Linked DNA regions of Homo sapiens. The protein of the gene in region 1 purifies or fractionates together with the protein of each later gene. This does not show direct contact. Each region holds a gene or a part of one and is shown in the gene's direction. Other genes may lie near its edges. The genes, in order: ARFGEF1 and TBC1D22B.

Region 1 (3,826 bases):
ATGCAGAAAGCTGGTGACAGTTGAAAGTGAAGCTAACTTTTGGATTCTAGTCCAGAGCTCTTTATAGGCAGTTATGTTTTGCCTATTTCAGTGGCACATATACTAAAATTGTAGGCAGTTATAGTGTCCATTTTTTATAAATTATTTTTTATTAAATTGCTCACTGGTTATTTGTGAAGCATTTAAATTATTTTTTGAGAAGTTAGTATACTGAATGTATGGGTGTTATGTTTTGCCTTTAATAACCCTACCTTTTTTCTTGAAGGCTTTCAAGGAATACACAAGCGATGATATGAACGTAGCACCTGAAGACAGGGTGTGGGTGAGAGGATGGTTCCCAATTCTCTTTGAGTTATCCTGTATCATCAATAGATGCAAATTAGATGTAAGAACCAGGTAACAATCTATATTTGTAATTAAAATTTTGGATTTATTTTGACTTTAATCAAATTAACTCTTCTTTATAAACACAATCTCACAGTTAAAGACCATAAAATCAAGTGTTTTGTCAAATATATTAATTATTAGGTATATTTTAAAATATGTTAATATGATTTAAAAATATTAACTAGAGCAAAATAAAAATGGAAATACTACATTATTTTTAAAATATTTGATTATAGCCTCCATTTGATTTTAGCTTCTAAGTTAATTTAATCCTTTAAACATTCCGTCTTTTCATATATTTGTTTCCAATAATAAGTTGAAGTTAGTGGCAAAATTTATTTTATTTCCTGATGAATGATAGAAGAATTTTTAACTGCACATCCTTGCTGGGTTTTAGGTGAAGAACCATTTCTTTTTGTAACCTGGTCAGTAACATAGTTTGGAATAATATAGAGCTATTCAAATAGAACTCTTTCAAAAGTATATTGCCAATAAAAGATCATTATGAACATATAGTCAATCTGTAAAGGAACTATTATGGGTATTATGTAACTGGCCAAATGCTAACACACTGTTCTTAGGTCACGGCTCACATGATTCCCATAGTAGTTTTTTTACCCTGTACTTTGCCACATTGAAATGGCCAGCTTGTGTGTCCTAATATCTGTCAACCTCTAAACCCACCGTGAGTTCAATTTTATGGTAAACAAAATCTTTTAGGAATCTTTCCATCTTATTTGGAAGAATCTTCTGTTATTTGGATGTGTAACTTTATCGAATTTTTTGAATTTCTAAAGGTAGCACAGAATGAATCTCTCTTTTCTCACCTTATGCCAGAACCACCCCCATCCCCCACCAAGGTTAAATTTGACTTATATCCCAAGAAATTTTTCATTTTTATAGTATTATTTGTTACAACAGAAATTCGTATGAAATAGATAATCAAAATAGGACTTAACCCTTAGGGATTTTAATTATGAGAGCACTATAGAAAAACATTTTATTTTATATTTAGACATGGTGGATTGTTTATCAGTGGACCTGTTAGGAACTTGTTAAAATTCAAGATAGCCCCATTTCAGCTGTCCACCTGCCTCAGTGGAGCGGCTGACATATCATGACTAGCAGGTCATGAAAACTCAGCACCCTCTCCCCTCACCCTTTATTTATTTGTAGAAGTCTGTTTGATGGAGGATCCACCTGCTTTCTTAGCCTTCTGTTGCTTGGCACTGTGATACCTTATTTCTCACCATATTCCATGTTCAGATTATGGGTAGATTCCAGTTGTTAAAGAGGTTGTGTGTGTTCTAGTTAGTAAAGGAGAGAGAAAAGATCAGTAAACTTTGTTCAGTGATGGCCTTTGATTTTCCTACCTCATCCCAGGATATGTATGGGTTGCTATTTAGCTTCCATCTTAAAATGTGGGCCGGATGCCATGGCTCACATCTGTAATCCCAGCACTTTGGGATGTCAAGGTGGGAGGATTGTTTGAAACCAACCTAGGCAACATAGTGAGACCCCATCTCTTTGAACAAAAAGTTAACTAGGCATGGTGGTCATGCCTCTAGTTCCTGCTGCTCATGAGGCTGAGGCGGGATTGCCTAAGCACAGGAGGTTGGGGCTATGGTGAGCCCTGATCACACCACTGTACTCCAGCCTAGGCAACAAATTGAGACTCTCTGTCTTTAACAACAACAAATAGTGCAGCACTATAATTGGTATAACACTGTGTAGAAAGAATTTCTTGTGTGCATTCTTACTTAATTCTTCCAAAATTCTCTAGATTTGGGGATAAATACCGAAAATTAAAGTCCCAAATATAGTCAGGCATCATTTAATGACAGGAGTATGTTCTCTGCAATGCATTAGTAGGCAATTTCAGCATTGTGTGAACATCATAGCATGTACTTACACAAATCTAGATGGCATAGCCTATTGCTCCTTGGGTACAACCTGCACAGCATGTTACTGTACTGTAGGCAGCTGTTAATACGGTGGTGTTTGTGTATCTAAACATATCTAAACAGGCTGGGTGCAGTGGCTCACGCCTGTAATCTCAGCATTTTGGGAGGCCAAGGTGGGCAGATCACCTGATGTCAGGAGTTTGAGACCAGCCTGGCCAACCTGGTGAAACCCCATCTCTACTAAAAATACAAAAATTTGGCCAGGCATGGTGGCCATACCTATAATCCCAGCACTTTGGGAGGCCCAGGTGGGCGGATCATCTGAGGTCAGGAGTTCAAGACCATCCTGGACAACGTGGTGAAACCCCTTCTCTACTAAAAATACAAAAATTAGCGAGGCGTGGTGGTGCGCACCTGTAATCGCAGCTACTTAGGAGGCTGAGGCAGGAGAATCGCTTGAACCTGGGAGGTAGAGGTTGCAGTGAGCTGAGAGTGCCACTCTACTCCAGCCCAGGCAACAGAGTGAGACTCTGTCTCAAAATAAAAATAAAAATTAAAAAATACAAATACAAAAATTAGCCGGGTGTGGTGGTGCACACCTGTAATCCCAGCTACTTGGGAAGGTGAGGCATGAGAATTGTTTGAACCCAGGAGGCGGAGGTTGCAGTGAGCCAAGATGGCACCACTGCACTCCAGCCAGGGTGACAGTATAAGACTCTGTCTCAAAAAAAAAAAAAATACATACATACATACATACATACATACATACATACATACATATACATATATATATATGTGTGTGTATATATATATATATATATATATGTGTATATATATATATATGCATGGAAAAGGTACAGTAAAAACATGGCATAAAAGATAAAACCTGTAGGCTGGGCATGCATGGTGGCTCACGCCTGTAATCCCAGCACTTTGGGAGGCCAAGGTGGGCGGATCACGAGGAAAGGAGATCGAGACCATCCTGGCTAACACAGTGAAACCCCGTCTCTACTAAAAATACCAAAAATTAGCCGGGCGTGGTGGTGGGCACCTGTAGTCCCAGCTACTTGGGAGGCTGAGGCAGGAAAATGGCTTGAACCTGGGAGGTGGAGCTTGCAGTGAGCAGAGATCATGCCACTGCACTCCAGCCTGGGCGACAGAGCAAGACTCCATCTCAAAAAAAAAAGAAAGAAAAAAAAAAGCAACAACAAAAACCCATATAGGGCACTTACCATGACTGGAACTCGCCGGACTGGAAATTGTTCTGGGTGACTCAGTGAGTGAGTGGTGAGTGAATGCAAAGGCAAACACTGTAAACTTAGGCTACTTTAAATTTATGAGAAGATATTTTTCTGCAGTAAAAAATTAACCATAGCCTACTGTAACTTTTTTGCTTTATAATTTTTAAAATTTTAAAAAACTTGACTCTTATATTAACACTTAGCTTAAAACACATTGTACAGCTATATAAAAGTATTTTCTTTATATCCTTATTCTATAAGCTTTTTTCTATTTCTATTTTTATTTTTTACTTT
Region 2 (3,826 bases), on another chromosome or scaffold:
TTCATCATCCTGAAAAGAAACTACATACCTGTTTACAGTCACTCCCCATCCACCCCACTCCAGACCCTGGTAACTACTAACCTACTTTCTGTTTCTGTGGATTTACCACTTTTGGACATTTTATATATATGGAGTAATATGATCTGAGGCCTTTTGTGAGTGGCTTCTTTTATTAAGCACAGTGATTTCAGGCTTGTCCACGCTGTAGTATGTATCAGTACTTCATTCCATTTTATGGCTGAATAATATTCCATAGTATACATACACCACATTTTGTTCATTCATCAGTTGATGGATATTTGAATTGTTTTCACTTTTGGGCTATTGTACGTAATGCTTTTATGAACATTTATGCAGAGGTTTTTGTTTGGATATATATTTTCTATTCTTCTGCTGATAAATAGGAGTGGAATTGCTGGGTCATGTAGTAACTTGGTGGAACTAAGCATCTTTTAAGTTCTCTCAGTTATTCACATGAGCCCCATTTACTTAGCACATCAAATGGTCATTGTATTAATGCCTAGAAGATAAGAGGCAATCTCTACCATTGCAGGCTTTGGCAGGTGTGGTGGCCTGTAATCCCAGAATTTTGGAAGGCTGAGGCAGGTGGATCGCTTGAGGCCAGGAGTCCGAGACCAGCCTGGCCAACGTGGTGAAACCCCCCATCTCTACTAAAAATACAAATTAGCTGGGCTTGGTGGTGTGTGCCTGTAGTCCCAGCTACTCAGGAGGCTGATGCCCAAGAATCTCTTGAACCTGGGAGACGGAGGTTGCAGTGAACTGAGATTGCGTCACTCCACTCCAGCCTGGGCAACAGAGCAAGAGATTGTCTCCAAAAAAAAAAAAAAAAAAAAATGCAGGCTCTGAAATCTGACTGCCTAGGTTAAAATCCCAGCTCTGCTTTCTAGCTATGTGATCTTATGGGATTTAATTAACCTCTCAATGCATCAGTCTCCCCATCTCTAAAATAGGGACAGAGTATCTGCTCCATGGGGCTGTTATGAGGATTAAATGAGATAATACATAATAATTGGTTAGGAGGTACACAATAATATTAGCTATTATAAGAAGGATAGTTACGATGATAGTAGCTATCATTTTTGTTTTCTCTCCTTGCTTCAGTTTTTGAAACTGAAATTGAAAAGCTTTGATCTGGTTGGGTGTGGTGGCTCACACCTGTAATCCCAGCACTTTGGGAGGCTGAGACAGGTGGATCATTTGAGGTCAGGAGTTCGAGACCAGCCTGGCCAACATGGTGAATCTCCGTCTCTACTAAAAACACACAAAAAAATTATCTGGGCTTGGTGGCACAAACCTATGGGGGAAAAATAAAAAAGCTTTGGTCAGTGTGTGTGTGTGTGTGTGTGTGTGTGTGTGTGTGTGTGTGTGTGTGTGTGTCTAGAGCTCGGGCACAGGAGAAAAAAAAAATCACCTTTTTTTTTTTTTTTTTGAGATGGGGTCTCCCTCTGTTGCCCAGGCTGGAGTGCAGTGGCACGATCTCAGCTCACTGCAGCCTCTACCTCCCAGGATTAAACGAGTCTCCTGCCTCAGCCTCCTGAGTAGCTGGGATTACAGGCACATGCCACCATGCCCAGCTAATTTTTGTATTTTTAGTAGAGAAGGGGGTTTCGCCATGTTGGCCAGGCTGGTCTTGAACTCTTGACCTCAAGTGATCTCTTGACCTCAAGCCCACCTCAGCCTCCCAAAGTTCTGAGATTATAGGTGTGAGCCACCGTGCCCAGCCCTGGCTAATTTTTGTATTTTTTGTAGAGACAGGTCTTGCCATGTTGCCCAGGCTGGTCATGAACTCCTGGGCTCAAGCAGTCTGCCCACTTCATCCTCCAAAAGTGTTGGGATTACAGGCATGAGCCTCTGCGTCTGGCCAAAATCGAAATTACCTGAGTCTTCCAGGCCCTTCGTTGTTAGAAAGAGAGGCCAAGTTAAGAACTTGAAGCCGATCCTAAAATAATAATGAATCTGATAGGAGACTTAGTGTAAAAGTCACAGCCTGTCTGGGCAGGTACATTACAACTTGTTCTTGGCTTGGAGATGTTTTACTGGTAGAGTGAGTGACTAGAAGATACTAAATTATCATCGAAACAGCATAGATCACCTGTTCTGGAAGACTAATGTGGAGTGAGTGTGTGAACCTACATCAGTTGCCAACACGTTTGGCATTTAAATTTGATGGGTCTTTTTCCCATATTTGCACTAGCTCTTTTATCAGTGCTAAACAAACACCTGTTGATTTTTCCTACCAAGATGTTTGCACTGTTTCAACTAGGCAAAACAGCTATGTCAATACATTCTATGGTGTTGGTTTTATTAAAGAGAGTGACGGAGATTAATCAGAACTTTTGTTCCATTTTGTCTGCGTGGCAGCATATTCCATGGCATTCTTTTCTCTGCATATGTGGTGTGATTTCTTCGAGATGCAGTGTGTTAACTAACCTCTGGTTTTTAGGTCTAGCTTAAGTGGAGGCCTAGGTTTTGTAGAGATCTAATCTTCACTTACTAAATATTGTTAAGTGCCTGCTGGTATGTGTCATGCTCTGCCAGGTGGCAAGGGGGCTACAGAAAAAGATATGGCACCACTATGGCTTTCTAGGAGCTAAAAAATCTGCTTGGCATCATGGCTTCCCCTGGAGAAGATGCTGTGTATGATTGACTTTCTGGTTTTTCCACTAAACATATGTTATATTTGTAATCAGACAAACTTAAAAGTGGAATTGGGTGAAAACACATTGTTGAATGCAAAGAGCAAGATGTAGAAAGATATGTGCAATGTGCAGTCTTTTATGTGAAGTTTAAAAACATAAAAAATACTGTGTGTTGTTTATGGATCTGTGAATATATGTAGAGGAATAAAAACAGATGGGAGGAGTTCCCTCCAATTTCAGAATAATTGTTATCTCTTGGGAAGTGAAGAAACAGGACTAGGGACTGCAATTAGGGCATCAGTAGTCTAACACTTTGTTTTTGTTTTGTTTTGTTTTGTTTTTTTGACATGGAGTCTTACTCTGTTGCCAGGCTGGAGTGCAGTGGCCCGATCTCCGCTCACTGCAACTTCCGCCTCCCGGGTTCAAGCGATTCTCCTGCCTTGGCCTCCCGAGTAGCTGGGACTACAGATGCGTGCCACCACACCCAGCTAATTTTCTTGTATTTTCAGTAGAGATGGGGTTTCACCATTTTGGCCAGGATAGTCTTGATCTCCTGACCTCATGACCCACCCACCTTGGCCTCCCAAAGTGCTGGGATTACAGGCGTGAGCCACTATGACCGGCCTAACACTTTTTTTCTTAAATGAAATGTGACAAATGTTAACATTTGTAAATCAGAGTGATGGGTTTGTGGATGTTTATTATATCATTTTCTGTACTTTTCTTTGTGTTTGAAAATGTCAATTAAATGCTTTTTCACTTGTGTTAGAGCAAATGTTTTGTATTTTTTTTTTTTAACTTGTGTTGGAGAGATCAGCCAGTTAGCCATGGAATTAAGTAAAATTTAAAGTAACATGATTTAGAGTCAAAATAAGTCATATTTACAGTGTGATGTTATTTATATAAAGTTTAAAAAACATGCAAAATCATACATTATTTAGGGATACATACATAGAAAATAAAAATATAAAAATGAGTGTGAAAAATGCCAGATCCAATAGAGTGGCTTGCTAGGAAGGGAGGGAGGGGTATGCCAGGGTGTTTTGTTTTGTTTGGTTTTGTTTTGTTTTTGACACGGGGTTTCACTCTTGTTGCCCTGGCTGGAGTGCAATGGCACGATCTCGGCTCACCGCAACCTCTGCCTCCCAGACTCAAGCAATTCTTGT

What was found.
Region 2: the proteins of ARFGEF1 (region 1) and TBC1D22B purify together in Homo sapiens (pull-down; one large-scale study listed by IntAct). This does not show direct contact.

What each region holds. Positions count from the first base shown.
Region 1 is NC_000008.11:67,221,473-67,225,298, reverse strand, and holds part of ARFGEF1 (brefeldin A-inhibited guanine nucleotide-exchange protein 1), read left to right. Parts: intron 1-265; coding exon 266-396; exon of another isoform or gene 397-610; intron 611-3,826. UniProt on the Homo sapiens protein: Promotes guanine-nucleotide exchange on ARF1 and ARF3. Promotes the activation of ARF1/ARF3 through replacement of GDP with GTP. Involved in vesicular trafficking.
Region 2 is NC_000006.12:37,260,599-37,264,424, forward strand, and holds part of TBC1D22B (TBC1 domain family member 22B), read left to right. Parts: intron 1-3,826. UniProt on the Homo sapiens protein: May act as a GTPase-activating protein for Rab family protein(s).